4 linked regions of the Homo sapiens genome follow. The protein of the gene in region 1 binds, or shares a complex with, the protein of each later gene. Each region holds a gene or a part of one and is shown in the gene's direction. Other genes may lie near its edges.

Region 1 (7,671 bases):
TGCAACCAGTTTCTTCCACCAGAAATGAATTTTGCCTGCGCTAGAATTTCATATATTTGGAATCACAAAGTATTTTTGCGTAAAACTTCTTTTAGTTACATGTTTTTGAGATTCATCCACATTGTGAAGTGTATCAGTAATGTGTTCATTTTTATTACTGGATATTAGTGCATTGTGTGTTTGGAAGTTCTGTATTTTAGGCCGGGCGCAGTGGCTCACGTCTGTAATCCCAGCACTTTGGGAGGCCGAGGCGGGTAGATCACCTGAGGTCAGGAGTTTGAAACCAGCCTGACCAACATGGTGAAACCCCATCTCTACTAAAAATACCAAAAAAGTAGCTGGGCATGGTGGCAGGTGCCTGTAATCCCAGCTACAAGGGAGGCTGAGGCAGGAGAATCCCTTGAACCCAGGAGGTGGAGATTGCAGTGAGCTGAGATCACGCCATTGCACTCCAGCTTGGGCAACAGAGCGAGACTCCGTCTCAAAAAAAAAGAAAAAAGAAAAAAAAAGCTCCGTATTTTAAAAAATTACAAGAAAATAAAATAAAAAGTTATGTATTTTGTTTACAACTACGTTGAATATTCTTCAGGTTTTTGGAGGGAAACAAATTTTCGTGGGTAAATACTCGAGTGGAGTTGATGGACTGTAACATAGTTATGTGTTTAGCTTTTTAAGAAATTTCCAGACCATTTTCCAAAGTGGTTGTACCATTTTACACTTCCATTAACAATATATTAGAATAACAATTGGTCCACATCCTCACCAGTATGTGGTGTTGTTTGCTCAGTCTTTAATTTTAGCCATTTTAGTGGGTATGTAGTGGTATCTCCTTAGGGTTTAGTCGGTTTTTTGCTTATTTGTTTGTTTTTGAGGCGGAGTCTCACTCTGTCACCCAGGCTGGAGTGCAGTGGCATGATCTTGGTTCACTGCAAGCTCCGCCTCCTGGGTTCACGCCATTCTCCTGCCTCAGCCTCCCGAGTAGCTGGGACTACAGGCGCCTGCCACCACGCCCGGCTAATTTTTTGTATTTTTAGTAGAGACGGGATTTCACCGTGTTAGCCAGGATGTTCTCAATCTCCTGACCTCGTGATCCGCCCGCCTTGGCCTCCCAAAGTGCTGGGATTACTGGCGTGAGCCACTGCGCCCAGCCCAGAGTTGTAGAAATTAGATCTGTGTCCTGGATACCAGTTCTTTGTCAGATGTGTTTTCTCTCAGTGTGTGGTTTACATGTTCATTTCCTTAATAGTGTCTCTCTTCTTGTAGCTCAGGCTGGAGTACAATTGTGCGATCTCAGCTCACTGCAACCTCTGCCTTCCAGGTTCAAGCGATTCTCCTACCTCAGCCTCCCAAGTAGCTGGGATTACAGGCGCCTGCCACCACGCCTGGCTAATTTTTGTATTTTTAGTAGAGACAGGGTTTCACCATGTTGGTCAGGCTGGTCTCGAACTCCTGACCTTGTGATCCACCCGCCTTGGCCTCCCAAAGTACTGGGATTACAGGCGTGAGCCACCATGCCTGACTGATCGATTTTTATGTATCTGGAACTCTTTAAGTCTTTTTTTTTTTTTTTGAGATGGAGTCTTGCTCTGTTGCCAGACTGGAGTGCAGTGGCGCACTCTCGGCTCACTGCGACCTCCACCTCCCAGGTTCAAGTGATTCCCCTGCCTCAGCCTCCCGAGTAGCTGGGACTACAGGCATGTGCCACTATGCCTGGCTTATTTTTTTTGTATTTTAGTAGAGATGGGATTTCACCACTTTGGCCAGGCTGGTCTCGATCTCCTGACCTTGTGATCTGCCTGCCTTGGCCTCCCAAAGTGCTGGGATTACAGGCGTGAGCCACTGTGCCCAGCCTATATCTGGAACTCTTGGGCTCAAGTGACTATCATCCATCTTGGATTACTTTTGGAAAATGGTGTTAGTGGTCCAGGTTCGTTTTTTTTCTGTATGGATTTCCAGTTATTCCAGCATCATTTGTTGAAAACACTTTCCTTTGCCTGTTACACGTCTTTGGCACCTTTGTAAAAAATCAACCATATAAGGCCAGGCTTGGTGGCTCATGCCTGTAATCCCAGCACTTTTCGGAATCCAAGGCAGGCAGATCACCTGAGGTCAGGAGTTCGAGACCAGCCTGACCAACATGGTGAAACCCCGGCTCTACTAAAACAAAAAGAAATACAAAAATTAGCTGGTTGTGGTGGCGAGTGCCTGTAATCCCAGCTAAATCAACCATGTAAATGTGGGACCAGAAATAGATCTGTTTGCTTGTATTGTTTCATTGATCTATTTGTTGTTCCTTATGTCTCGATTACTGTAGTTTTAACTTGTATATGTACTGCTCTAGTCACATAATTTGTCTTCCTAGAGATTATACTTTGGTCTCTTGTCTTTCTAAAATCTGTTTCTGAACATTGGCCCTAGGTTCTCTTTTAAATGTGAATATGAGCCTGGTACTCCACTTCATTGATGAAAATCCTTCAGTAGCTCTCCTAGAGGAATTCTTTAACAGAGCTTAGGCTTTCCATGAAAGGAACCTGCCTAACTCCTCTCTACTCATAGGACCTAAAATATTGAACTTAACATTTCATCGGCCAGGCGTGGTGGTTCATGCTTGTCATCGTAGCACTTTGTGAGGCCGAGGCAGGCAGATCACTTGGGCCAACATGGTAAAACCCCGTCTCTACTAAAAATACAAAAATTAGCTGGGTGTGGTGGCATGCGCCTGTAGTCTCAGCTACTTGGGAGGCTGAGGCACAAGAATCTCTTGAACCCGGGAGACGGAGGTTGCAATGAGCTCAGATTGAGATTGCGCTATTGCACTCCAGCCTGGGCAACAGAACAAGACTCCATCTTTGTATCTATAATTACTCTGTGTCTTATGCTGTATTTTTTCTTTTGTTTCTTCTTGCTGCATATTTCCAACTTTTCAGGCTTCTTACTAGGAGTCCCCTAATACCTGACTCCCCTCTCCACATGCTACAATATATTCTTAGTAAAAAACCTGTGTGTAGCTGGGTGCAGTGGCTCACGCTTGTAATCCCAGCACTTTGGGAGGCCAAGGCAGGCTGATTGCTTGAGCTCAGGAGTTTAAGACTAGTCTAGGCAACATGGCAAAACCACATCTCTACAAAAAATTTAAAAATTTAAAAAATATTAGCCGGGCATGGTGGCATAGTCTCAGAAAAAACCTAAACTAAAAACCTCTGTTTAAAAAAAAACACAAAAAAAACCTCTGTATATCTTTATTGCTTTCTACAACTTAGTTATTTTTACGTATCTTTTATGTATCTGAGCCACCGCGCCTGGCCACATAAGGTTTTTTTTTTCCTTTTATTTATCTTCTTTGCTTCCAAAAATGATTTGAAGAACTTTTATAGTAAAAGTTCTTACTAACTGGGATAGTAAATTCGTGTAAAAGATAAAAACAAAAACTTGATAATGGGAGGAAACCATTAGTTCAGAATTCTAGGCTTTTCTAGTTATAATTGATTGTTAAATTTGGAGCTGAATAACTCTCTGGTGAAATAAAGTGTTACCAATTCGTTGAGAAAAACGTTTTCTTGATGTCATATATAAAAAGAGATTCAACTCATGAGTCTTCTTAAAGTTTGAGGCTTGTTATATCCCAGACCAAGTAATTTCTTTTTTGTGATGGCTGTCTATACCACTAAAAAAAAAGAAATTAAAAAAAGGCATTTTAAGGTTGGTTTCCCTTTATTCATTAAAACATTTCAGCCAACATTATTCAGTGCCTATTACAGTCTAGGATTAGATATAGAGCTTACGATCCCTACCCTCAAGAATAGTCTAGTGCGGGAGGATAATAGGTTATCTTATGTGTACCATTTAGTGTGATGATAGGATCTGTTAATTCAAAGTATATATTATAGACTAAAAGTTTTTATATGAACTGTGTATTGTATGATAGTGTGGGGTTCATTTTCTTAGATGTGATTGTGAGATTATGGTTATATAGGAGAATGTCATTAGAAAATGCATGCTGAAGTGTCGTAATGCCTACAACTTACTTTGAGATGGTGTGATCAATTTTTTTTCGTTTGTTTTTTTGACAAAGTCTCACTCTATTGTCCAGGCTGGAGTTTAGTGGTGCAGTCTTGGCTCACTGCAACCTCTGCCTCCCAGGCTCAAGCAATTCTCCTGCCTCAGCCTCCCCAGTAGCTGGGATTACAGTCAAGTGCCACCAAGTCTGGCTAATTTTTTTGTATTTTTAGCAGAGACGGGGTTTCGCCATGTTGGCCAGGCTGGTCTCGAACTTCTGACCTCAGGTGATCCGCCTGCCTCGCCCTCCCAAAGTGCTGGGATTACAGGGATGAGCCACCACACCTGGCGAAGACTGTCTTTAAAAAAAAGGGCCAGGCCTGGTGGCTTACGCCTGTAATCCCAGCACTTTGGGAGGCCAAGGTGGGCAGATCACCTGAGGTCAGAAGTTCGAGACCAGCCCAACGGGTGAAACCCTGTCTCTACTAAAAATACAAAAATCAGCCAGGTGTGGTGGCAGGCGCCTGTAGTCCCAGCTACTTGGGAGGCTGAGGCAGGAGAATTGCTTGAACCCAAGAGGTGGAGGTTGCATTGAGCCAAGATCATGCCACTGCACTCCAGCCTGGGTGACAGAGCGAGACTCCGTCTCAAAAAAAAATAGAATTTTAAAAAAAGACGGAGTCTTGCTCTGCCACACAGGCTCCAGGGCAGTGACACAGTCATGGCTCATTGCAGCCTCAAAGTCCTGGGCTCTAGCGATCCTCCCACCTCAGACTCCGAGGAGCTGAGACTACAGGCATGAGCCAACAGGCCCAGCTAATTTTTTTATTTGTATTTTTTTCGAGATGGAGTCTTGCTCTGTCACCCAGGCTGCAGTGCAATGGCATGATCTTGGCTCACTGCAACCTCTGCCTCCCAGGTTCAAGCGATTCTGCTGCCTCAGCCTCCTGAGTAGCTGGGATTACAGACCTGCACCACCACACCTGGCTAATTTTTTGTATTTTTAGTAGAGATGGGATTTCACCATATTGGCCAAGCTGGTCTCCAACTCCTGACATTGTGACCCGCCCACCTTGGCCTCCCAAAGTGCTGGGGTTACAGGCATGAGCTACCGCACCCGGCCAACTAATTTTTTTTTTATTTTTATTTTTGTAGAGACAGGATCTTGCTTTGTTGACCAGGCAGGTCTCGAACTCCTGGCCTCAAGTGATCATCCCACCTTGGCCTCTCAAAGTGGTGAAATTACAGGCATGAGCCACTGCACTGGCAATTGACAATATTTGTAAACCCTTTAACTTTTCATCCTCTGCAAAATTTTATAAAAAGGGGAGAACGGAAATTTAGATGAAGTGAGAAGTGGATAGATTGTTCATTATATATTATCAAGGCAACTGGCTATTCAGTTGGGGAAAGTAATAAAGACAGATTTGTGCCTTACACTGCATAAAAAAGATCAATTCCAAGTAGATTAGAACTCTAAAAGTAGAAGAAAATAAGACACTATTTTTTTACAATCTTGGCATAGAAAAAACCCTTTCTTAGGTAAATTATGTATCCCAGGAGGGTGAACAAATTCAAAACATAAAAGTGAAAAAAGTTTGTGTGACTAAAGAAACCATAAACAACAAACTTGAATGACTGGCAAACCAGTAGAAAATAAAAGAAAAACTCAACCTAATTGAGAATGTCAATAATGTGAACAGGTAATTCACGGAAGAAATAGTTTTCCCATGTTAATGAAAAGATATTCAGGCAGGGCGCGGTGGCTCATGCCTGTAATCCCAGCACTTTGGGAGGCCGAGGCGGGTGGATCACGAGGTCAGAAGATCAAGGCCATCGTGGTTAACATGGTGAAACCCCGTCTCTACTAAAAAAAAAATACAAAAAATTAGCCAGGTGTGGTGGCGAGCGCCTGTAATCCCAGCTACTCGGGAGGCTGAGGCAGGAGAATGGCGTGAACCTAGGAGGCGGAGGTTGCAGTGAGCCGAGATTGTGCCACTACACTCCAGCCTGGGTGACAGAGCGAGACTCTGTGTCAAAAAAAAAAGATAAGATATTCAATCTCACAGGTAATTAAGGAAAAGCAAATTTTTTCCCCATCAAATTGACAAAAATTTGAAAGACTTATAGCAACTTGTGTTGGTGAGGGTTTGCATAATTGGGTTTGTAATGGGAAAAAATTGAACCAAAGTAATGTCCGTCAACAGGCGGTAATAAATTTTGACATTTCCATATAGTGGAATACTTTCCAGTTCTTAGAATGTTATTTTGTTATTTTGGCTTTTTGTGAGATGGAGTCTTGCCCTGTCACTCAGGCTGGGGTACAGTGGAACAATCTCACCTCACTGCAAATGCTGCCTCCCGGGTTCAAGCGATTCTCATGCCCCAGCCTTCCAAGTAGCTGGGATTACAGGCGTGCGCCACCTTGCCTCGCTAATTTATTTTTATTTTTTTTTAATTTTTTTTGAGATGGAGTCTTGCTCTGTCCCCAGGTTGGAGTGCAGTGGTGCGATCTTGGCTGACTGCAATCTCTGCCTCCCAGGTTTAAGCGATTCTCCTGCCTCAGCCTTCTGAGTAGCTAGGATTACAGGCGTACGCCATCCTGCCCAGCTAATTTTTGTGTTTTTGTAGAGATGGAGTTTCACCATGTTGGCCAGGCTGGTCTTGAATTCCTGACCTCAGATGATCCGCCCTCCTCGGCCTCCCAAAGTGCTGGGATTATAAATAGGCATGAGCCATCACGCCCAGCCTCAGTTCTTAGAATGTTTTGTATGTTGAAATGGAAATATGTCCAATATAAACTGCTAAACGAGGACTACAAGTTATAGACGTGAATAAAATATGACCCAATTTATGTCAAAAGAAATCTGTATATATCCTTCTGAATGCATATAAAGTGATCTGGAATAATATTCCTACATACCCACAGTGCAGGGGGTTAGGAAGGGAGATTTTTACTTTATAGGCATTATAATAAGCTTGTAATCTTTTTACCGACTGTAATTCTTTATTTCTTTTTTTTTTTTTGAGACGGAGTCTCGCTCTGTTGCCCAGGCTGGAGTGCAGTGGCGTGATCTCGGCTCACTGAGAGCTCTGCTTCCCAGGTTCACCCCATTCTCCTGCCTCAGCCTCCCGAGTAGCTGGGACTACAGGTGCCCGCCACCATGCCCAGCTAATTTTTTGTATTTTTTAGTAGAGACGGGGTTTCACCATGTTAGCCAGGATGATCTCGATCTCCTGACCTCGTGATCCGCCCGCCTTGGCCTCCCAAACTGCTGGAATTATAGGCGTGAGCCACCACGCCTGGCCTATTTCTTTTTCATGGTTTATAATGAGTCTAAGATCTTGTATGTCTGGATTTCAGGTTTGAGAATTAGAAACGTCCAAATGACAGTTTATGTTAGTATTGTTGTGTTCCTTCATAAAGGTTGAGGATATAATTCAGGAAAGCTGAAATTGTTATGCAGATTATTGATAGGAATTGATGCAGATAGCATCTAGCAAATTTTCAACATCGAGTTGTTTCACCCTTTCACCTTAATAAATGTGATTTTAAAGTGTTACAGGTAAAAATGGTTTTATTCCTATTTATAGATTTTTGATGAAATTGAGTCATGAAACTGTAACCATTGAATTGAAGAACGGAACACAGGTCCATGGAACAATCACAGGTAC
Region 2 (7,671 bases), on another chromosome or scaffold:
CTGAGAGAGAAAAACTAGGAAGTGCTATCCAGGGGATTGGTGGGGAAAGCCAACGGTTGGACATTAATGAAAGTGGGGTGTAGAGAGGGTTTCTACATAGATTTAGGGCAAGGTATATGGAGAAGGTATGGGAACGGTTGGAACAGAGGAGGCTGGTTTGATGTGTTTAAATAGAGCAGAGTTGAAAACAGGTAATATTTGACAGCTGGCAAGACAGGGAGGAACTGCAAATTGTTGTAAATCCTATTGAGAGGAAGGAAATTGAAGGAATAAAATATCAGGATAGTTGATAGGATCTTTAAATATTTGGAATCAAGGAAATGGCCCTTACCTGGGAGGTGAAGTATATGACGATTATCCAAGGTTCATGTGTGTTTCTGATGTGCATGCTGGCCTTTAGTTGGGGTGTGAGGCTGCACATTCTGAACCAACTAGTCTGCTGTTCAGATACCTAGGGGCTGTGTAGTTTATTTCATATTCGTATAGGGTGGTCTGAAATCCTTAGGTAAGTTTTTGGGAGAGTCTTTGGACATGGACTAGAGGCCGTTGGGTGCCACAGATCTGTGTCTGGTGTTTGTTGTGACCAGGAGGCTTTGGTTGGTTACCAGAGGTTAGGAATTAGAGTAGTTGGTAAACACACCACTTGTGCATTTTGGGGCCAAAGGAGAACAAAAAGGGACAGTGTGGAGAGATTTTAGAGGAACAAGATCCTTGTTTGCCTAGGGTGGAAAAAGAAGAAAATTTAGGTGTAGGGAGGGATTATTTAGAATTCTGTGCAAGGGCATTGAGAGAAAGGCTGTAAGAACTGGGCTGTGATTTGGTAGAAAGGAAATTTGGAAGGGCAAAGAAGTGGTTTTCTTGGGAGACCAGGAGGATGGTGGAGCATTATACAGCGAAGACTTAGTGTGAAGATCAATGTTGAATTAGGGATGAAGGAGAGCAGGGACTTGGGTGTGGGGCGGTAAGTGGTTAGTTTGGGGCCAGGGGCCTGACCCGTGTCTCCCCGCTCCCCCTCAGGAGCGGTGGTGCCCCCCCCGGGCACGGGGCCATGTACAACGGGATCGGGCTGCCGACGCCCCGGGGCAGCGGCACCAACGGCTACGTCCAGCGCAACCTGTCCCTGGTGCGGGGCCGCCGGGGTGAGCGGCCTGACTACAAGGGAGAGGAGGAACTGCGGCGCCTGGAGGCTGCCCTGGTGAAGCGGCCTAATCCTGACATCCTGGACCACGAGCGCAAGCGGCGCGTCGAGCTGCGATGCCTCGAGCTGGAGGAGATGATGGAAGAGCAGGGGTGAGGGAGAGCTGGGGGAGAGTCAAGCACTGAATGAGTGCAGAGCTGGGGGTGTTAGGTGGGATGTATAGGGAGCTTAGGGTGGTTGAAAGAGGCCTGGCAAAGAGTTGTGGTAGGGGAGGAGGCAGATGAGCTCTAGAGAAGTGAAAACAGTTAAGGGACAGTGCAGAGTGGGAAATGAGAAGGCTGTGTGTCTGGGGCATAGATGGGAGCCTGAGGTACTAAATGGAGGCACGTGGGAGAAGGGAGGGGCCATTGAGGAACAAAAATGTGTTTTAAGGAAGAGATGGGAAAGCAGAGACCAGGTAGAGGAGCTAGGTAAGCTGATAGGTGTTGTCATTGGTAGAAAAGAAGAAGATAAATGGATGTAAGGATTGAGGCCTTGGAAAGTAGCATAGGCAGGAAAAGAGGAATTAGAAGAATACGTGAAGAAGTGGGAATCATGGGCTGGGAAGGGAAATTTTGGAAAAGGAGCCCATTAAGGCAGAAAACTCTTTTAGAGCAGTGGTTTTAAACTTCAGCAATGGTGATCCTTTTATACAGTATCCCTTACTTTGGAATCCCAGGAAGTAAAAGGCACATTCTTGTTGAAGTTGGGGAGGAGCACTTGGAACCCTGCTTGCTTAACTTTTTTCTTTTGGTCCCTGAGGTGTAGCATATTTAAAATCCACTGTTCTAGAGGGAGTAGTAAGTAGAGGGAAGAAAGATGATGGGAAAAGATCAGACAGAAGGGACTTTTGGGTGAGCGAAAAGTTCTGTGTGCGCATGGAGAGGGAGGGGCCCCTTTTGGGAATGAGGGAAATGGAAACCTGGGACTGGGGAAAGTGTCCTGTCGAGCTTAACCCTGAAGGGATTTGTTCTTCAGGTACGAGGAACAGCAAATTCAGGAAAAAGTGGCGACCTTTCGACTCATGTTGCTGGAGAAGGATGTGAACCCTGGGGGCAAGGAGGAGACCCCAGGGCAGAGGCCAGCGTGAGTGTTGCGCTCTCCCTCGATGACTCTGGACTCTACTCTGGCTGCTGGCTGCTGCTGCTGTCCTTTTCCTTACGTGGGACTTCCTCCCTGCTTTCGTCTGCCTTTCCCATGCCTTATTTGGCTCCTGCTTATACTTGTGTTCTGAATATGGCTCTGTCCTTTATATTTCCTTCAGACTTTTGCCCTTCTTTTCTCTAGGGTCACGGAGACTCACCAGTTGGCAGAATTAAATGAGAAGAAGAATGAAAGACTCCGTGCTGCCTTTGGCATCAGTGATTCTTACGTAGATGGCAGCTCTTTTGATCCTCAGCGTCGTGCCCGAGAAGCTAAACAACCAGCTCCTGAGCCTCCCAAACCTTACAGGTATACAAGGCCAAGAAACCACTGTCAGCTTCTTTTCTTGATTGTAAGCTCCATGCTCTATTTTTGTCTTTTTGCGGGCTGGTTTCTTCCCAAACTCTTCAGATTTTGTTCTTCTGAAGTTGAGGTGTCCAAAAAAATGTGTCCAAGGGTTAGTCACAGTGGGTCACGCGCGTAATCCCAGCATTTTGGGAAGCTCAGGCAGGAGATCACTTGAGGCCAGGAGTTTGAGACCAGCCTGGGCGATGTAGTGAGACCCCATCTCTACAAAAAGAAAAAAAGCTGGTTGGTGGCACATGCCTGTAGTCCAGGCTGCTTGGAGAGGTGGAGGCAGGAGGGTCTTTTGAGCCCACAAGTTGGAGGTTACGGTGTGAGCTGTGTTGCTGCCACTGCACCCCACCTGAGGCAACAGAGCGAGACTCTTATTTTTTTATTTTTATTACTATTTTTTTAGACTCTGTCTTTTAAAGAAAAGAAAGGAATGTTTGTTCTACCACCCATCTCTGCTGCTTTTCATTTTTCCCTAGCCTTGTTCGGGAGTCTAGCAGTTCTCGCTCACCAACCCCAAAGCAGAAGAAGAAGAAAAAGAAGAAAGATAGAGGACGGTAAGTTAGTTGGAAAGTGACTCTGATAGCCAGAGGACCAATCCTGTGGTGTACCTTTCTCTCTGGAAGTGGACAGTTCTGGCTTCCACAAAGCAGGAGATAGTTGTCAGGGAGGAGGGAGTTACCATTGAGGCCTCAACTAGAAGAAATACCTGAGTTTCTCAGTGGGGAAGTGTTGAGTTTGCAGTTCTGCTAATTAAGATTGGCCAGCAGCATTTTGGATTCTGGAATTTTCTTTTTCATTTTGAGGTTTGTTGACTTAAGGAGTTACTTGTGCTTGTTGGAGAAAGAAGAAATAAGTCCTGGGCTTAGGTCTGGGGCATTAGTGCTATTAGGACATTCAAGTGTTTTAGAAACCTTTTTAGGAGAGAGATTGTAAGTGGGAGGGCCAGGAAAGAAGCCAAGCAGGATGAGCTTGCTTTTGAATCCATCTTTAGCAGGTCAGAGAGCAGCTCTCCTCGACGGGAGAGAAAGAAAAGCTCAAAGAAGAAGAAGCACAGGTATGAGGTGGGAATACTTGAATGACTGGAGAAGGTTTGCTGAATTCAGGCAGAGGTGTTTCTTATGTTTTTTCTTCTCTTTTTTCCAACAGGTCAGAATCTGAGTCCAAGAAACGTAAGCATAGGTAAGAGCTCTTTAACTCATAGGGGGCGCAGTGGCATGTGGAGTGGTGATTTTTTTTTCTTGGAGTGAAGCTCAATTCCTTGATCTTCCTTGTGTCAACACTCCCTCTTTCCATTTCACTTTTGGTTTTATTTCCTTTTTTAAAGAAGTTACTTTTAACAACCTTTCCTTATTTCCCAGGTCTCCCACTCCAAAGAGCAAACGTAAATCTAAGGACAAAAAGCGAAAGCGGTGAGTGAATTTGTGGGGAATTTGCTTAGGAAGTAAGTGAACGCCACCTTAGTGGGAGGGAGTTGAATGAGTTATGTCCCTGACTGGTAAAGGGTTGAGGGATACGTGAGGAGAATCCAGGGCAGGTACAGCAGTACCCTGAGCTGTGGTGGTGGTCTTCCTTCAGGTCTCGAAGTACAACACCAGCCCCCAAGAGCCGCCGGGCCCACCGTTCAACTTCTGCTGACTCTGCTTCCTCCTCCGATACTTCCCGCAGTCGGTAAGGGGTAGTCCAGGAGGAAGGGAGGGAGAGGGAATGATGGGTTAATTAATTTAATATTTATTGAGCGCCCACGGTGTGCTAGGCGCTGCACAGACCATTCGGAAGACACGGTCCCTGCCCTCTAGGAGCTGACAGGCTAAAGCAACAGGATGGACAGACATATACATTTCCCCTTCTCTTTTTTTTTTTGTTTTTGTTTATTTGTTATTTTTGTTTCGTTCTGATGTATATGGACTGCCAGAATAGGGGGGGTGGTGGTTTGTTCGTGGTGTCTGGGGGAGGAAGGAATCCTTACCCTGGCTTCCTTAATCGGGGAAGGCTTCCTGAAGGAGGTGGGCTCAGAGGTGAGTTGTGAATGAAGCGGGTAGGGAGTGGGCTGGGTGGATGGTTTGGGGATGTTTGGGGGAGGTGAGTAAAGGGGTAGAGGGAGAACGCTCTTTGGGATTGTGTTGGGAAAAGAAGAACCAAAGTGGACTGTACTTGCATTTCAGTGAATGATTTGAGTTGTGCGACTAAAGGCTTTTTGGAAGAGGGTTGTCCAGTTAGGAAAGGTGGATGGGAGTTGGGGAGGGGGTTTTCTGTTCTCCCTTTGAGCTGATTTCCTTCCTCTCCCACGTCCTCAATTAACTCCTGCAGGTCTCGAAGTGCTGCAGCTAAAACTCATACAACTGCCTTGGCTGGGCGAAGTCCTTCCCCTGCTTCAGGGCGACGCGGGGAGGGAGATGCGCCTTTCAGTGAACCAGGTACTACCAGCACACAACGGCCTAGTAGCCCGGAGACTGCTACGAAACAGCCTAGCAGCCCTTATGAAGACAAAGATAAAGACAAGAAGGAGGTATGTTCCTGAGTTGGTGATGTTCATTGGATTGCAAATGTATAGATTTAGGATAGACATGTGATGTGAAAGGGAGAGGTAATAACTTATTAAAATAAATAAATTCAGTTTTTTTTCCTGCATTTCTCTCCTAGTTCTCTTACTGCATCTGCAGAACTTTTAGTGTTGTTACTAGACTGAATTGTGAACCCTTTAGAATCAAATCTCACTGGATGTTAGGTTTTATATTGTGTCTTGTTTATACATAGATAGAACTGGAACAAACGTTGTATCTTATCTGTGTACTCCGTATGATGCCTCTAGTTTCTTCTCTTTTTTCATTAAATGCTGGTCATGTCTCACCAAAACTTTTTAATCCATTGCGTTGCCACCAATAGTTTGAATGAAACACTGAAATAGTCTTCAGTAGTCTTCTGTTCCAATTTTAAGCATTAATCATTTCCTCTTGCTTTAGTGATTACAGTCTGAATTCTTGGCCTCTATCATCAATTTTCCATGTCATCCAGGGTTACCTTTCCAAATTACAAGTTGGTTGACCTCAGAAACTTAACTACTTCCTTATTGCTTTTGAATTATATTTAAGGCTTTTAATAGTCTGGTCTTTTTCTCATTTCCTGTACTCTACCCATCCTGGGCTGCTTTTTTACTCTTCACACAAATCATGTTCTCACATCTTTATTCATGCTGTTTCTTTTCGTTTAATAGAGTTATTCTTCAAAGGTGAAGTTGCCATTCGCTTTAGGAAACTGCTTATTTTTCCATTTAAAGATAGTTTTTTTCCATTCTTATAACATTTTGTAGTGGTATTTGTTAAATGTAGTAGTGCATTAGTTATTTGCATTTTGTGTTTCTTTTAGTTTTAAGATTCTGGCTATCCATATATTCATATGTTTTCACCACTGTGCTTTATATGATTCCTTGTTATTGAATGAAAGTGATCGCTTGTGGTCAGAGGGTGTGTAAAAGAAAAGTTATCATTGGAAAGGGTGTTGGGATCTTAGGGGTGATGTGAAGTTTTGGCGTTTATGAATCCCTATCCCTGCTCTCTCTTCCACTCTTAGAAATCTGCAACTCGACCTAGCCCCTCTCCGGAAAGGAGCAGCACAGGCCCAGAACCACCTGCTCCCACTCCGCTCCTTGCTGAGCGACATGGCGGCTCCCCACAACCCCTTGCAACCACCCCCTTAAGCCAGGAGCCAGTGAACCCCCCATCTGAGGCCTCTCCAACTCGGGACCGTTCACCACCTAAGTCTCCCGAGAAACTTCCCCAGTCTTCTTCCTCAGAGAGCAGCCCACCATCCCCTCAACCTACCAAAGTTTCTCGGCATGCCAGCTCTTCCCCAGAAAGTCCTAAACCTGCTCCAGCTCCAGGGTCCCACCGAGAGATTTCTTCTTCTCCCACATCTAAGAATCGCTCACATGGCCGAGCAAAACGGGATAAATCACATTCTCATACCCCCTCCCGTAGGATGGGGAGGTCCCGTAGCCCTGCCACCGCTAAGAGAGGGCGATCTCGGTCTCGAACCCCTACCAAGAGAGGTCATTCTCGATCCCGATCTCCCCAGTGGCGTAGGTCCAGGTCTGCACAGAGGTGGGGAAGATCTAGAAGCCCCCAGCGACGTGGCCGCTCTAGGTCTCCTCAGCGACCAGGCTGGTCTAGGAGCAGAAATACCCAGAGAAGAGGCAGGTCTAGGTCAGCAAGGCGAGGGAGGTCCCACTCTAGATCCCCAGCCACTAGGGGTAGATCTCGTTCTAGAACACCAGCCCGCCGGGGCAGGTCCCGCTCTAGAACACCTGCCAGGCGGAGATCACGATCCAGAACTCCCACCAGGCGTAGGTCTCGGTCTAGAACACCAGCCCGGAGGGGCAGGTCTCGGTCTAGAACACCTGCTAGGCGCAGATCTAGGACCCGATCACCAGTACGACGCAGGTCTCGTAGTAGATCACCAGCCAGGAGAAGTGGCAGGTCACGCTCTAGAACCCCAGCTAGACGTGGCCGCTCACGCTCCAGAACCCCAGCCAGACGTGGCCGCTCACGCTCTAGAACCCCAGCTAGACGCAGTGGTCGCTCACGCTCCAGAACACCAGCCAGGAGAGGGAGGTCTCGGTCTAGGACACCAAGACGAGGAAGATCCCGCAGTAGAAGCTTAGTTAGACGTGGAAGATCTCACTCTAGAACACCTCAAAGAAGAGGCAGATCTGGCTCATCTTCAGAGCGGAAAAACAAATCCAGAACATCTCAAAGAAGAAGCAGGTCCAATTCAAGCCCAGAAATGAAGAAATCTCGCATTTCTTCAAGGCGGAGCAGGTCTCTCTCTTCACCACGGTCCAAAGCAAAATCTCGCTTGTCTTTGAGGCGCAGCCTTTCAGGGTCTTCCCCATGCCCTAAACAAAAGTCACAGACACCACCCAGGCGCAGTCGCTCTGGATCCTCCCAACCTAAAGCTAAATCTAGAACGCCACCCAGACGCAGTCGCTCCAGTTCTTC
Region 3 (7,671 bases), on another chromosome or scaffold:
TATTCAAATAAGCACAGTTTATATGCAACACATAGACACACTATTATGGACTGAATTGTATCTCCCTAAAACTCATATGTTGAAGCTCTAACTGCCAATATGATGGTATTTGGAGGTGGGGCCTTTGGAAGGAAATGCTTAGGTTTAAATGAGGTCATGAGGGTGCCCCCGCTCTCCCTGCATCCCTGTGTTGTGATTAGTGTCCTCATAAGGAAGGAAGAAACTAAAACTCTCTCTCTCTGGCACATACTGAGGAAAGCTCATGTAAGGACACAGTGAGAAGGCAGGCATTTGCAATCCAAGGAGAGAGCCCTCACCAGACACTGACTGATGGCACCTTGATCTGGGACTTCTGTCTGTGAGAAAATAAATTGCTATTGTTTAAGCCACTCAGGCCATGGTATTTTGTTATGGCAGCCCAAGCTAACTAAGACACAAAGTACAAAATAAGTTAAAATGATAATAAATGTTTGGATTGCACTTTGCCATTTGCAGAGCCCTTTCAAATCCATGATGTTTGATCCTCAGGCCACGTGAGGTAAATAGGTTGCACATTACCACCCCTCTCCACAGGTGAGGAAACAGAGGCCTGAGAAGCAATGTGACTTTCTCCAGTAATAGTGACTGAATGTAACTCAAATCAAACTCAGGGCTTCTGAGTGCATACCACAGAGGTTTCATAGAAGGTGTTAAAGAAATTCAAAGGCAGGAACAAATCCTGAGGCCCAGGGCAGTCAGAAAAGAATTTTAGGAGGAAATGGGAATTAAACTGGGCTTTGAAAAAAACAGGGACATACACCAGTGGGAAGGAGGCGGAAGGGCGTCCCAGAGAAGTGATGTGGACAAAAGTATGCTGCAGCCCACCTATGATACAGAGCAGGTCCTTTCAAAGGATCAGATGTGGGCAAAACTTGAAAATTGTTTGGTCTTGCTGAGATTTTTCTTTAAAAATAAAAAGGCTGGTTTTGCTTTTTAAATACAAGTCTCCTTTCAACCCTACCCCTAAAAAACTTAAATCAGATTCATTAAAGTTTGTAATCCACAGTCCCATAGAATGACAATCTTAGTAATAACTAGGAGCTATTTTGTTAGGTTTCTTAGAATTCTAACTTAACAGAGAAATTAGAAGCTGTCAACACAGTACACTAACACAGTACAGAGACAAATTTTGTGTATGGCAAAATTTCATAAAGAATGGCAAGGTCTTTTAACCCACATGGGGAAGGCTGTCCGAGGACAATATATGTACTTTCTCCCACCTCAAAGGCTAATCATACACTAGACAGATGTCAATCTTCAAGCAGTTTAACTGGTCCATTTGAGAAAGATAAGTGTTGGATTTTCATATCATAAAGTTAGTAGTAGTAGAAATACCTTGTTTCAGCTGTTCGAGTAACTTATTACCCTTTTCTCTGGCATTATCATGTAAGAGTTTATAAACATAATTGCTCAATGATTTGGAATTATGTATTAATACTATCAAGGAGCAAGGTGAACAAAACCAGAACTCTAGTCAAAGGTTTTGGAGGTGGCTGGCTACTCAGAAACATTTATTTATTCAGCACACATTTATTGAGGGCATTCTTCTTGGCAAGCATTGCTGGCTAGTACAAAGGCCAATTGGTACAAAGGCGAATAACAGAGCCACCATAGAGCCAGGTGTGGTGGCACATGTCTATAGTCCCAGCTGCTTGGGAGGCAGAGGCAGGAGGATCACTTGAGCCCAGCAGTTCAGGGCTATAGTGTGCTATGATTACTTGAATAGCCACTGCATTCCAGCCTGGGCAACATAGCAAAACCCCATCTCAACAAAAAAGCAGAGCCGCCACCTTCAAGAGCACCTGCAGCCTAGTAAGGGAGACAGCAGTTACACTGTAGTATGAGGAAGACTAAACCAGAGAGATATTCAAGATTCTCTGCAAGACCAGAAGAGGGTCTTAACCCTGGGGGAGAAACAGCAGGTCAGATCAGGAAAGGAATCAGGAACCATTTCTAAGATGGAGATAACACTCAGCTAACTGAGAGACAGAAGTGTATAGTGTATATAGAGGCAGCGAGGAAGAAGGAGAGTGCAGGCGTTTGTTCAGGAAACTTCAAAGAACTGGGATGTCTGGAGCATAGATGTGATGGGAGAAGGAGATGTAACAGGCTGGAGAGGGAAGCAAAAGCCAGATTATAGAAGCCACATTGGGAATTTTGGGTTTCCTTGTGTAGACAATGGAGAGCCACCAAAGCATTTAAAACAGAAGAGTTTTCATGGCTACATTTGCATTTTTGAAAAATATAAAAGACCTGAGTATTATGGACCACAAGGTAGTCCTTAGTAATTCGATGGCTGAGAGGAGATTGCCAGATATCCACCCTTGCAGAGGCAGGCTGTGGGCCCTTGGTTCTGCTCCTTTTGGACTTCCAGCTGAATGAGGTGTCCCTGCTTAGCATCCCTATTTTAGGAAGAACTAGAAGAAACTGGAACTGAGATTTCAGATAGCACTGATTAAAGGCAATAAGGAGATAAAAATTTATAGGGGGAATTAATGCTTTTTCTTTTTTGTAAGTAAGCATTCACCTAAAAGAGTTGTGCCTTTTCCCAAAGATGCTCCCACATTGCTCAAGACATTTCTGGAATTTCTCTTTTGAAATTTCTTTAATGTCCAACCTGGATTCATGTCTTTTTATGGTTGCATTTTTTAAATTTTGTACTCCAAAATAAGCACTACTCTATCTGATTTCTTATCTTCCTTACTAGACCTAGCACTGAATTGACTTTTGATGTATTCCCAAAGTTAAATCCATCTTTACAGGATGAAAGTTTTGTTACCTCTGAAGACATAGAAGAAAGTATCTGGTCAAGAAGTTATCAGCTACAAGTTTCTCGACCCTCAGTCTCAGAGACTGCCTATGAAACAGGGGTGATAATAATATTTTTCCTGCCCCCCACCACATTCAGTTATTGTAAAGATGCTACCAGACAACATGGGAAAGCTTTTTGTAGAGTGCTGCATCAGCGAGTGCTATTTTTGTTGTCTCACAGTTTGCAGGCAATTCCAAACTCTGCGTTTACCACATCGTGGTGTCTGTCTGTATGTTCTTACAGATTGTTTACTTCATGGAAGTAGGGCCTGGGTCATATTTGGCTTTGTTTTACCAGTGTCCAGCGTTGGCAGCATGCATTAAAAGCCCCCAGATGTTTTTTGAATGAATAATTGAGTCTAGCTCATTGCCTTTTCCTCAAATCACATATATCAGAAATAAATAATGCACTTGAGATTATTCAGTTCAAATAATAGACTCAGAGGCTACTTGAGTTTCTTTGAGTAGTTTGTCATTAGGAACCAGCTGTTCTCCATCTCTGAAGGGGCAAGGACAAAGGGCTAATGAAATCAATCAATCTGAAAGCATAAAAGCTCTTAAGCTTTATTTCTGTGCCCTTTACTTTGACTGCATTTAAAAATAACTAGGAACATTTTTTTTAAGTTACTGATGCTGGGACCCCATCCCAGAACAATTAAATCAATACCTTTGGAGTTGGAAGCCTGGCACTGATAGTTTTTAAAGCTACTTGGTGATTTTAACATGCAACCTGCATCGGATGCAGGGGCTCTAGAAATATGCTTTGAGAAACATTGCTTTAAACAAATAAAAAATAAAAAAAGGGGCCCTTCTCTCTAGTTCTACATCAGGTGCTATATGAGATGGATAAGAACATAAGGCATGTTCCCACTGCAGTCTTTTGAGGAAATAAAAACTAGCAATCACTAGTATGAGTGAGTGGAAAAGCAACTATCAGTATTTGGTGAGCTGTGAGAAATGAAAAGAGACTTATGCTGAGCCTGAGACTTTCTGCAGAATCTGGTAGATGTTTTAGGGAGTTTATCATCAAAATATAAGACAGTCTCTACCCACAAAAGGAAGTTGACTCTTAGCTTAGCAAGCCTTCTAGTACCAGCCAACAGGCCTGACCAGTACAAAGGGTCTGAAGGCCTTATTCCCAACACAAATCACCATGTTTGGCACCGGGAATGCAACAGTGAACAAGACTCAAACTGTCTCAAACAACTGAGTCTGTTCACAATCAAGTAAACAGGCAATTACAAAATGGGGAGAATTGATGAAAGAAATGAAATAAGGTTGGTGAGATAGGAAGCACCAGTTGTTGGAGGACTTTTAAGGGTAGACTGAGGTATTTATTTCAGTCTAATATGATAACCAGTAGTTTCTGATCAAAAGAATGCTATAAAAGAAATGTGGAAGAAATATTATTTTTTAAGCTTTGGATCTGGGAAGGAAATAGTACAGATGTACAACAATTAGGACACCTGCAACAATCGTAGGGTTGGGTGATAAGTTCCTAAGTTAGGGTGGCTTGGATGTGGGAAGAAGAGGTTTGTAGACTTCCCAATGAAAAAGATAGCTGTTTATATTATATAAGTAATTTAAATTCATTTAAATCGGAAATGAATTGCTAATGTTGGAATTCTATATTAGACTACTTATTGTGTGTCTGAGAATCAGTTCCTCTCTTGATATTTCCCATTGATACAAATAGCTATTGTATCTTAGTCTATTTCACAATTGTGGGAGAACTTTAAAAACTGGATAAGAAGTTAGTGAAGTCAGTCAAGGTCTAGTCCTTTTTGAAAAATCAGTTGTTTACTTCTGTTTGTAATTTTACACAGCCCCATACCAAAAAAACACCAAAAACAATAACAAAAAAACCACTTTCCTGTCAAACACAACCTCTCTGAAAATAGTAAACTTCCATATTTTAACATACTATATATATAATATATACTATATACTACAATATATAATAGATTACATATTATATATGATATATATAATATATACCATAGAGATCAGTTATATATAGTGTATATACTGTATATATACTATATATACTATATACCATATGTATAATATATAGCTATATATTATATATAACCATAGATTTTATATATACACTATATATAATATTGTAACACACTATAAAGTCAATGTTATTTGAGAATCTGAGCCTATGTGAAATTTTTTATTAATCAAACCTAAATTTTTGTCTTTGCCTTCAAGTGAACAAGCTCTACAATTTTCATATGTAAATGATCAGTGTGTAATTAATTCCAAAAAAATTCACTACTTTTTTTGGGCCAATTCCATAAAGAGCCGCAGAGTGGATAGTATTGAGTTATTGGGACATACATGATTGTAAACTATCAGACCCCCTGTACTCAAATTGAGTCCGTATTCTAAATCTTATTGTGTATCCTCATAGGAGACTGTAAAGTGCGGGCATGCTTTCAATTCGTACAGTCTGTGATTTATAGAGGCAAGTAGGTCAGGAATTTATTATGCTGAAAATCATAATAACTGTTTTGTTTTGCTTTTCACAATGAAGTGACCAAAGCATGTTGAAAGATAAATGGATGAAGCATTTTGATTATGCTTGTATTTCTATTAAAGGTTAAATATTATTGCCAAGTAACTAGCCATGCTAAGTATTATGATATTAAAGCTGAAGTAGTTTGTAAGCTGATAGCCCTTTCTTTCCTCTGGGTTTAGGTTTGTTATTAATCAAAATGTTGGACTTGCTTAGTGCAGTGGTGTATGAAACAAACAGTTGAAAAAGACAGCTCCTTTAACTCACGGCTCTCTGCTTTTTTTCAAATTTGTAAGGAAATCTGTTTCTTCTTGTGGACTTTATGCTGTTATTCATGTGTCTAGAGTTCATTTTTTATACCAGAGCCGACTAAATCCAATAGTTGCAAGATTCTCTCATGGCATAGAAAGGAAAAAGGTGCCTTTTTATATTCTTAATTGACAAATTCTGATCAAGTCATTTTTGAAACATGGAGAATCCCTACTAGAAATGGATATTACAGAAAACCATCTGTATTTCTGGGCAGAGAAAAGGATAATTTTTTAAATAGAAGAATATGTATATGAAGAGGTATTAATAAGACAGTAAGTTTGTTTTCTCATATCAATCCAGGAGTATTGATGAAAGTGTTTTAAAGGGCGTATGATTCCAGCTACACTGGTGTTGGCTTAGACATCAACACAGCCAGCCCGTAAGCACTTGGAACGCTGCTGCTAAGCATGTACTGAAGTGCAGTAGAGGGGTCTAGATGCCCCCGATGTGTGGTAAAGTACCTTTAACAGGACAGTCCTACCATTCTTCTGCACTTACTTCTCATCAGTGGTAATATTACAATTTTAAAGGGTGCATTTTGTGGGGGATGCAGCAAAGATTGTAAGAAGTGTTGAAGAAAAAGGCTACCTCTCAATGACTGGAGAAAAAAAGGCTTAATTTATTACTTAAGTAAAGAGGAGCTGTGCTTTTAGGCACAGTGTCTCCAAGCAAAGCAGGCTGCAAATCTTACATAGTGTTTTGGGGTCAGGAATTGTTTAGGGGCAGCTATCACCCTCAGAAGCCCCATTATTTGAAAGAAACTATTGTTGACTGGCTGGCTTTCAGAAGCATATTCACTGGAGCCAGTCTGCAGCCGACAGGCCAACTTTCAAAAGCATGTGGCTATCACTGGTTAATTGGCTTTCAGAGGTGTATTTACTGAAGTGAGTTGTCACTGATTATTTAGACCTTGGTGAGATATCATTAACTGCATAAATCTGGTTTAATTATTCTTCCAACTGGTTCTAGTGGTTTACTTAATACCATGGCTGTCGAACAGTCAGCCTTTTTCTGGGAGTTAGAGATTGTCTTACTTTCAGAAGCTAATACCTAAACGCTGTAGGAAATTGAACGCACAAGAAAATTAGATTTTGCAACTATTGTACAATACATTTTCTAATTAAGGGTGTCTACTAAAGGAATGGAAGTGTAAAAAGTCAGCAACTCCACATGTGAAATAGCATATTCAGGTATTAAGATCAGTTATGAAATTTGATACAAATTATGTATCATTAATAATATAGTTCTAAGCATGGTGGCATGCGCTTGTAATCTCAGCTCCTTGGGAGGCTGAGGCAAGGTGTTCACTTGATCCCAGGAGTTCGAGACCATCTGGGGCAACATAGCAAGATCTCATCTCAAAAATAATAATAATAATAATAATGAAGTATAAAAATGTGAATGTGACTTATTCAGTAAATTAAAGTAGATTCTAGATCATCCATATATATCATTTCTACTTATTGCTTTCCAGTAAGCTTTCTCAGGTGGGACAAAAGAAGGTAGAAACGGTACATAAGTCTCAACTCGCCAGCCCTGGTGAGCAGCAGCTACTGAACCCTTAGTAATGATGGTATCACTAAAATTGTGACATTTTATTTCCCTCCTAAAATCTTTTTAGGATTCTTCAAAATCTAGGTATACCCATGTGAGTTTGCCACACAAGTAAATTTCACTCATCATTTGTGCTGCTGTAGAGAGAAAAGAGTGAGGGATCTTCACTACTGCCTACCTACTACCCAGATCTCTGCTTATATGGGGGAAAAGATATTAGCATCATATTTGGGTTTCATCTGAAAGTTACAACAGGCATATAAGAAGTATTAATCCTACAGTTTAACCCTATCTGCTGTGATGAAGAAAAGTGTGTATAGGATATAACTGGTAGGAAAAGACTTAAGAGTTTTATTTGTATGAAAATTGAACTTTTCGCCGGGCACGGTGGCTCACACCTGTAATCCCAGCACTTTGGGAGGCCGAGGCGG
Region 4 (8,401 bases), on another chromosome or scaffold:
GAGGCTGAGGTAGGAGTATCGCTTGAGCCTGGGAGATTCGGGCTGTAGTGAGCCGTGATCATACCACTGAACTCCAGCTTGAGCAACAGAGTGAGACCCTGTCTCAAAAAAAAAAAAGAGATAATTTTCATATATATATAAAAGTTGAAACAATAGTTCAATAAACACCTATACAGTCCACACTCCCCCATCTAAGCTTAAATAATTGTTAACATTTTGCTTTCCCTTTCATGCTCTCTCACACTCTCTCACTATAAACACACACACACACACATTTTTTGTTGTTGAGATAAACTATTTGAAAGTAAATTGAGGCTGGGCATAGTGGCTCAGGCCTATAATCCCAGCACTTTGGGAGGCCAGGTGGATGGAGCACCTGAGGTCAGGAGTTCGAGACCAGCCTGGCCAACATGGTAAAACCTCGTCTGTACTAAAAACGCAAAAATTAGCTGGGCATGGTGGCAGGCGCCCATAATCCCAGCTACTTGGGAGACTGAGGCAGGAGAATCACTTGAACCCGGGAGGCAGAGATTGCAGTAAGCCAAGACTGCGTCACTGTACTCCAGCCTGGGTGACAAGAGCAAAATTGTGTCTCAAAACAAAAAACAAACAAAAAAGAAGAAAGTAAGTTGACACATTTCATCCCCAAATCCTCTGGCATGCATCTCCCAAGAATAAGAACGTTCTTCTACTTAACCACAATGTCATTAATACTCCTAAGAAATTTAGCAAAAATTCTACAATGTTGTCTATTATCACTCCATATGCAACTTTCTCCAAATGTCCCAAGAATATTTTTTATAGTTTTCCCCAACTGAACCAGAATCCCATCAAGGTTTACTAATTTTATGTGTCATGTCTCATCAATCTGTTTTCATCTATTCTATTCACATCCATTCCATGACATTGACATTTTGTAGAGTCTCAGTCAGTTGTCTTGTAGAATGTCTCACATTCTGGATTTTACTGATTGTTTCCTCATGCTTTTAAACTTGTTACTCTATCCCCTGAATTTCTTGTGAACTGGACATTAGGTCTGGTTTGATCAGAAAATTGGTGAACTTCCGGCCAGGTGCAGTGGCTCATACCCGTAATCCCAGCACTTTGGGATGCCAAGGTGGGTGGATCACTTGAGGCCAGGAGTTCAAGACTAGCCTGGCCAACATGGTGAAACCCCATCTCTACTAAAAATGCAAAAATTAGCCAGGCGTGCTTGCTCATGCCTGTAATCCCAGCTACTCGGGAGGCTGAGGCAGGAGAATCGCTTGAACTAGGGAGGCAGAGGTTGCAGTAAGCCGAAATCGCACCACTGCACTCCACCCTGGGCAACGGAGGAAGACTCGGTCTAAAAAAAAAAGAAAGAAAGAAAGAAAGAAAGAAAGAAAGAAAGAAAACTGGGGAACTTCCTATTAAAAGCACCTAGTGTCAGATTGTTCCACTGTTAGTGAAGCAAAAGTGATGACAGCCAAATCTCTCCATCGTAAAGATACGTTATTTCTTTCGCAGTTCCTAAGTAATCATTGGCTCTAGCCTTTTTAACTATGCTTTAATGCAAACCAATATTTTAATTAAAAAAAAATTTTAAACATTGAGAGGGCACGTAAAACACATCCAAAAAGTAAGAACGGTGTGGTGGAGCAGCTCTACTTTTTATCAGAGAATGATTATAATAATATAGCCATAATAACTAAAGCATAATGGCATCAGAGCATAAAATACTGGCATTGAAGTAAATTTAAAAAAACATCCTATAGTAGAAAATGTTAGTGGGAAGGTACCCCAGAAATAAAATTGAGTTCAACTGCCTCACTTTGCAGATGCAAAACCTGAACCTTAATAAATTAAGGCCAATTCATTAAAGCCAGAAAGCATAATTAATTTTTGAGCGCTTACTCTATGCTGGGCATTTTTCTAAGCACTTCACATGATTAACTCATTTAATCCTCCCAATAGCTTTATTGAGGATAAGTTATACTGATTCCACGCCCCTCACCCTTTTTATTGGCCAGTGAGAAAACTGAGACAGAGAGAAGTGACTTATCCAGAATCTACAGCTCATAAATTAGGGAGCTGGGATCAGAAGGCAGGAAAGCTGACTCCAGAATATGTGCTTAACTTGTCCTCCCTACCACCTCACAAGCTATATTACTTGTGGCTACATAGCCACACCTACTTAGGAATCAAATTAGGCCCTAGGTTCTCTGAGAACAATTCTACTCTCTATCCAGAATTCTAAGACTGGAGTGAATTGATTGCTTCTTGCAACCTGGCGCATTACTGATTCCAGCATGCACTGGGCTCTCTACATGAGCAGGCAGCTGCTAATTACCTATGATAATGAGGGATGGATAGGCACTGAAGATTCAGCATAGCTTAACACCAAACCCCCTCCCCAACAAAACCAAAGAAAGCACTAGGCCTTTGGGTATAATATTGTATCACGTTTGCAGTAGATTTGCTTTCTTAATTGTTTTGATAGGATTGCTATTAAAGTCAGTTTCTATTCTTTACACACCCCCAAAACAGCGAGGGACTATGACTGGTGGAAATGCCTTGCATGATGTGCCTCTGTGGAAAATGAGAGTGGATTGCAAAAGCTCTTCTCCACCCTGTTCTTTCAATCCTGCATCCCAGGTCTTGGTCTATGTCTTACTGATTTCCCATGTTAATTATTTTAACCTTGTCCTCAGTAGCCTCCTTTGTCTCTCATTGCCATAGAAACCCATTCTGCCTTAAGAATTGTCTTTCTTGCCTGTTCCTTTGACCCAGGCCCTCTACTTAAGTCCTCCTTCAGCTGCAAATCACCTGCTGAACTAAATCTAAGCTCCTTGATCTTGGCTTCCAGGACGTTCTATAATTTGCTTCTCTGTTTTTCTCCTTTTAGAAATAATACATTCCTGGAGCAGAGGTTGAAGTAGATCACTGTCAACCAAAATATTAACTGTAATAACTAACATATTTACATAGTACTTAAGAGTTAAGTAAAAACATATCCACCTACATTACCTCATTTAAGGCTCATACTCTGCTGTATTGTATATAATTATTTTACATTTATATAAATATAGGTAAAGCAGATAACATGATCAGCATTTTAAGTTCAATAAAACTGGGGCCCAAATAAATTAAATGACTTGCCCTATAAGAATTTATTGGTGCTGAAGCTACATCTTTTTTTTTTTTTTTTTTTTTTCTGAGACAGTTTCACTCTTGTTGCTCAGGCTAGAGTGCAACGACGCACGATCTCGGCTCACCACAACTTCCGCCTCCCGAGTTCAAGCGATTCTCCTGCCTCGGCCTCCCGAGTAGCTGGGATTACAGGCAAGCACCACCACGCCCGGCTAATTTTGTATTTTCAGTAGAGACGCAGTTTCTCCATGTTGGTCAGGCTGGTCTCAAACTCCCGACCTCAGGTGATCTGCCCGCCTCAGCCTCCCAAAGTGCTGGGATTAAAGGCACAAGCCACCACACCCAGCCAAAGCTACATCTTAAACTCTAATCTTCGGGCTCCCAGGCCATGCAGGTTATATTACACAATGTGATTAACAATCCTGTATTTACCAAAAGATTTTTTCTTTTTGTTTTTTTGGTTTACATGCTGTGGCAGGCAGAATTCTAGGATATCCCCCAAGATCTCCTCCTCACCCAACCCCCACAGTACCTGACCTACATAACCCCTGGGGCCATGACTATGAAGATTCTGATTCTGTTATGCGGTGTGGCAGAGTTGATTTTTTTTTTTTTTTTGAGACAGAATTTTACTTTGTCACCCACGCTGGAGTGCAATGGTGCAATCTCGGCTCACTGCAACCTCCACCTCCTGGGTTCAAGCGATTCTTGTACCTCAGCCTCCCAAGTAGCTGAGAAAACAAGAGCACATCACCACACCCAGCTATTCTTTTATATTATTTATTTATTTATTTATTTATTTATTTTTATTTTTTGAGACGCAGTCTCACTCTGTCGCCAGGCTGGAGTGCAGTGGCGTGATCTTGGCTCACTGCAACCTCCGTCTCCTGATTCACACGATTCTCCTGCCTCAGCCTCCCCAGTAGCTAGGACTACAGGAGCGCGCCACAACGCCCAGCTAATTTTTGTATTTTTAGTAGAGACAGGGTTTCACCATGTTGCCCAGGCTTTGTCGAACTCCTGAGCTCAGGCAATCCGCCCGCCCCGACCTCCCAAAGTGCTAGGATTACAAGTGTGAGCTACTGCGCCCGGCCAAGAGTTGATCTTAAAATAGGGAGATTATCCAGGTGCTCCTGATCTAATCACATGAGCCCTTTAAAAGCAGGGCATTTTTCTCCAACAGTGGCAGAAGAGGAGTCAGAAAGATGTGCCTCAGAAAGCAAATATCCATGTTGTGAACTACCAATAAATAGGGCTCATGTGGGAAGGACTCGAGAGTGACCCCTAGGAGCTGAGGGTGGCCACCACTAACAGCACAAAACAAAACAGGGAACTCGATCCCACAACCGCCAGGAACTGATTTTTGCCAACAAGAATGAGTTAGGAGATGGATTTTTCTCCAGAGCCTCCTATGAGATTTCAGCCTTGTCATACCCTGGGCAGAGAACCCAGACACTCGGTAAATTACCAAGGATTACGAAATATCTCCCCAAGAGAGTGTTTTGGCGGGTGAGAGGATATGGTTTAAAGAAAAGTTTTGAGTGTGAATGTTTTCAGAGAGTCCAAGGACTCTCCATTAGCTAGTCTCATTATTACCTGTCGTTTTAAACGCCCTATCACTCTTACTTAAAGTAGCTGTCCCCGGGAAGCTTTTGTATTTTGTACCCCTTCTCGGGGAACGGGACTGAGTAAGGAACGTAATAAAGCGGCCTAAAAGGCATCTCCCTGTATCTTTGATATTTTGCCTAGGGAACGCCCTATCATGTCGCATATAAGCGATCGAGTTATGCATTTGTTGCTAGCTGAAGAGATTATTCCTTGATAACCGCTTGGTCTGGTCAGAATACAAACGGTACTCCTGTTCAAAGAACTACAAATCCCAGAAGGCCTTTTCGGCCAGAGCGCCTGCGCATCGCGCACTCCTTCCTTTCCGCTCCTCATCATCTGGAAAGACCCGCCCAGCGGTGCTGTCGCTCGCGCTGGAAGAAGCGGAAGAAGATGGCGCTCACCAGGTGGGTTGTTGATTGGGGTCCTCGATACGGAAGGGTCTGGGAGTACCAGTCTTCTTCATTTCTCTTCCCATACCCTCCGGGCGGTGACCTGACCCGGGGCACAGAATGACGTGGGCCAAGACTACGGCTACGCCCTCCCGCTGGCCGCCGCTACGACTAGGCCTAGTCGAAGCTGGGGTCTTTCAGCGGTTTCCCGGGTTTAGTTCACCCGCTCACCGAGGCCGAAAGCTGCGGAGTGGTCTCAGACACTGAAGAGTGGGTTTTTCGCGTGAGCATCTTGCGGGGAGCGGACAGCGCTCCCTCAGGTCCGCGGCTCGGGCGAACGAGATGGGGTTGGTGACGGTAGTGGCTTATTTGGGCGGAGTGAAGCGCGCGGGCTGCGACTGCGCGGCTTTCCGGCCGTTTGCCTGTGGTGGTCTCTCTCCTTTCGCTGTCCACTGGGTGTCCCGAAACAAGGATTCCTGAAAAAAGAGGCCCGGAGCTGAACACAGATTTAAATGAGCCACAGTAGTGACCGCCGTCTGCTGATATGCGCCACTGCTCCGCATTTTAACTTTGGAGCTTAGAATTTCTTCCGTAGATAGAACCACCTCAGTTTTGCTGTTTCCGGTTACCTTAGTAACCGTCTGTAAAGTGCTCTCCGCCTTTAAGAAAAAGATGCTTTTCAGTGGGAGAGTCCGAGAAGTTACGCTACTCCTACTAGTTCCCAGCCTTGCTGCCCCATTTTAAGTGGAAAAACTTTCCATGCGAACTCAACAGGAAAAGGCTAGTGTTCAGGAAGGTTATAGATAAAGTAATCCTTTCAGGACATCAGCTTGAGCTCTTTTAACACCCTTCATTCTCCTCACGCATGTTTTTTTTTCTGGCTGATGACAGTATGACTCCAAAAGTTTTAATCAAAAAATTATTTTGGGAATTACTGTTGGTGCCTTGCTCTGTCCTGGGGGTTGTGTACACAGAAGAAAATCTGTCTTTGGCAACAGGGAAGATAGGGGTGCAAGGTATACAGACATAAAACAATTACAGAACACAAAATGTGCATTTGTGTAATACTAACCTTAGTGCAAAAAGAATTGAATGGAATAAGTTATGTGGGCTGGAGAGTTTTCTCCCCACCCTCGTTTCTAAAATTTTTTTGCTTTTTTTTTTAACTTTATTTTTTGAGATGCGGTCTCGCTGTGTTGGCCAGGTTGGTCTTGAATTCTTGGCCTCAAGCAGTCCTCCTGTCTCGGCCTCCGAAAGTGCTAGGATTACAGGCATGAGCCACCATGCCCGGCATCTGAAATTTTTTTAAAAAAAAACTAGAAATAGGGTGTTACTGCGTTGGCCAGAGTGGTCTCCAACTCTTGGCCTCCATCAATCTTCTCACCTAGGCCTCCCAAAGTGCTGGGATTGCAGGCATGAGCTACCATGCCCAGCCAAGAGTTTGTTTAGTAAATGTTACAGGCAGCAAACATTTGAGTGCTCCCCAGGTGTGAGACACTGTGTCATAGACTAGTAAAGTTATGAGGGGAGACTTTGTGGAAAAGGTGGAATTTGAAATGGACACACAGGAAAAATTTCTAGAGATGTCATGGGTATTTTTTATTTATTTTATTTTTTGATATAGGGTCTCACTCTTGCCCAGGCTGGAGTGCAGTGGCCCAATCACAGCCCACTGCAGCCTCAACCTCCCAAGGCTCAGGTGATCCTCCTGCCTCAGCGCCCTAGAGTAGCTGGGACTCTAGACGCTTGCCATGATGCCCAGTTAATTTTTGTTTTTTTTAGTAGAGATGGGGTTTTGCCATGTTGCCCAGCCTGGTCTTGAACTGGGCTTAACTGATCTGATCTACCCATCTCAGCCTCCCACAGTGCTGGCATTACTGGCGTGAGCCACCACATCATCTGGCCTGTCATGGGTATTGCGTGCTTAAAATTGCAGTGGCAGAATGCGATCTTTAAATGGCCAGTCTTGAGGACTCCAGAGCTTTCCATACCTACCATCTGGTGTTCCTCAGTATTCTTTGTAATATCCTTTAAATCAGTAAACACATTTCCCTGAGTTCTGTGAGCTGCCCTAGCAAATTAGTTGAACCTGAAGATGAGGTCATGGGAACCCTGGTTTGTAGTTAGTTGGCCAGTGGCCTTGGACCTACTGTTGGCATCTGAAGTAAGGGCAGTCTTGTGGGACTGAGCCTTCAACCTGTAACATCTGACAGTATCTCCAGGTAGATAACATCAAAATTGAATTGAATTAGAGGACACTTGACTGGTGTCCAGTAGACACAGTTGATAGCTTGCTTGATATGTGGGGAAAAACCATCACACATCTGGTATCAGAAGTGTTGTGTGTTGTTGATTGTTGAGTGAAATAATAGGAGAAACTGAGTTTGTTTTAATTTTATACTCTATCCACATGGAGCTTACACTCTAATGGGACAGAATTGGAATTCTAGTGGGACAGAATTCTAATTAGCTTACATTCTAATGGGACAGAGTGAGTAAAATCATAATGCAATTTCACGTAATACATGCTAGGAATAAAATAAAGACCGGGTTAGAGAGTGACTCAGAGTTTGGGGTGAAGTGGCTATTTTGGGTAAGGTGGTCAGAAAACAGCTCTAGAGAGAGGTAACTGAGCAGAGACAAGAGTGCTGAGATGCAAGCTGTTGAAAGATCTGGGGCTACTCTAGGCATACTGCCTGTGGGATAGCCCTGCCCAGCAAGGAGCAATCAAAAAAGAAAAGATCTGGAGATCTGGAGAAGAATTTTCTATAAAAGCATACGAAAATTTGTTCTTTTTTTTTTTTTTTTTTTTTGTGGCAGAGTCTCACTCTCACCCAGGCTGGAGTGCAGTGGAGCAATCTCAGCTCACTACAAACTCCACCTCCCAGGTTCAAGTGATTTTCCTGCCTCAGCTGGGATTACAGGCGTCCGCCACCACGCCCGGCTAATTTTTGTGTTTTTAATAGAGACAGGGTTTCACTATATTGGCATGGCTGGTCTCGAACTCCTGGCCTCAAGTAATCCACCTGCCTTGGCCTCCCAAAGTGTTGGAATTACAGGTGTGAGCCACCTCGCCCAGCCGGAAAAATTGTGATTGATTGCAATAGATAGATAGATAGAGAAAAATTGTGATTGATTGATTGCAATAGAGAAAAATTGTGATTGATTGATTGCGATAGATAGATAGATAGATAGATAGATAGATAGATGATTAGATTGATTTGATGGCAGAAGGAATAGCCAATGTAAAGATCCTGAGATGGCTTGTTTAAGAA

Evidence for each region.
Region 2: SNRPD1 (region 1) and SRRM2 share a complex: the UniProt entries of both Homo sapiens proteins name them as parts of the minor spliceosome.
Region 3: SNRPD1 (region 1) and CWC27 share a complex: the UniProt entries of both Homo sapiens proteins name them as parts of the minor spliceosome.
Region 4: SNRPD1 (region 1) and SNW1 share a complex: the UniProt entries of both Homo sapiens proteins name them as parts of the minor spliceosome.

What each region holds. Positions count from the first base shown.
Region 1 is NC_000018.10:21,615,135-21,622,805, forward strand, and holds part of SNRPD1 (small nuclear ribonucleoprotein Sm D1), read left to right. Parts: intron 1-7,590; coding exon 7,591-7,667; intron 7,668-7,671. UniProt on the Homo sapiens protein: Plays a role in pre-mRNA splicing as a core component of the spliceosomal U1, U2, U4 and U5 small nuclear ribonucleoproteins (snRNPs), the building blocks of the spliceosome.
Region 2 is NC_000016.10:2,755,317-2,762,987, forward strand, and holds part of SRRM2 (serine/arginine repetitive matrix protein 2), read left to right. Parts: intron 1-1,017; coding exon of another isoform or gene 1,018-1,048; coding exon 1,049-1,290; intron 1,291-2,155; coding exon 2,156-2,263; intron 2,264-2,464; coding exon 2,465-2,629; intron 2,630-3,153; coding exon 3,154-3,231; intron 3,232-3,668; coding exon 3,669-3,731; intron 3,732-3,823; coding exon 3,824-3,856; intron 3,857-4,035; coding exon 4,036-4,086; intron 4,087-4,252; coding exon 4,253-4,345; intron 4,346-4,430; coding exon of another isoform or gene 4,431-4,473; exon of another isoform or gene 4,474-4,806; intron 4,807-4,984; coding exon 4,985-5,183; intron 5,184-6,244; coding exon 6,245-7,671. UniProt on the Homo sapiens protein: Required for pre-mRNA splicing as component of the spliceosome. As a component of the minor spliceosome, involved in the splicing of U12-type introns in pre-mRNAs.
Region 3 is NC_000005.10:65,009,424-65,017,094, forward strand, and holds part of CWC27 (spliceosome-associated protein CWC27 homolog), read left to right. Parts: intron 1-7,671. UniProt on the Homo sapiens protein: As part of the spliceosome, plays a role in pre-mRNA splicing. Probable inactive PPIase with no peptidyl-prolyl cis-trans isomerase activity. As a component of the minor spliceosome, involved in the splicing of U12-type introns in pre-mRNAs.
Region 4 is NC_000014.9:77,757,854-77,766,254, reverse strand, and holds the start of SNW1 (SNW domain-containing protein 1), read left to right. Parts: upstream 1-5,098; 5' UTR 5,099-5,127; coding exon 5,128-5,141; exon of another isoform or gene 5,142-5,487; intron 5,488-8,401. UniProt on the Homo sapiens protein: Involved in pre-mRNA splicing as component of the spliceosome. As a component of the minor spliceosome, involved in the splicing of U12-type introns in pre-mRNAs.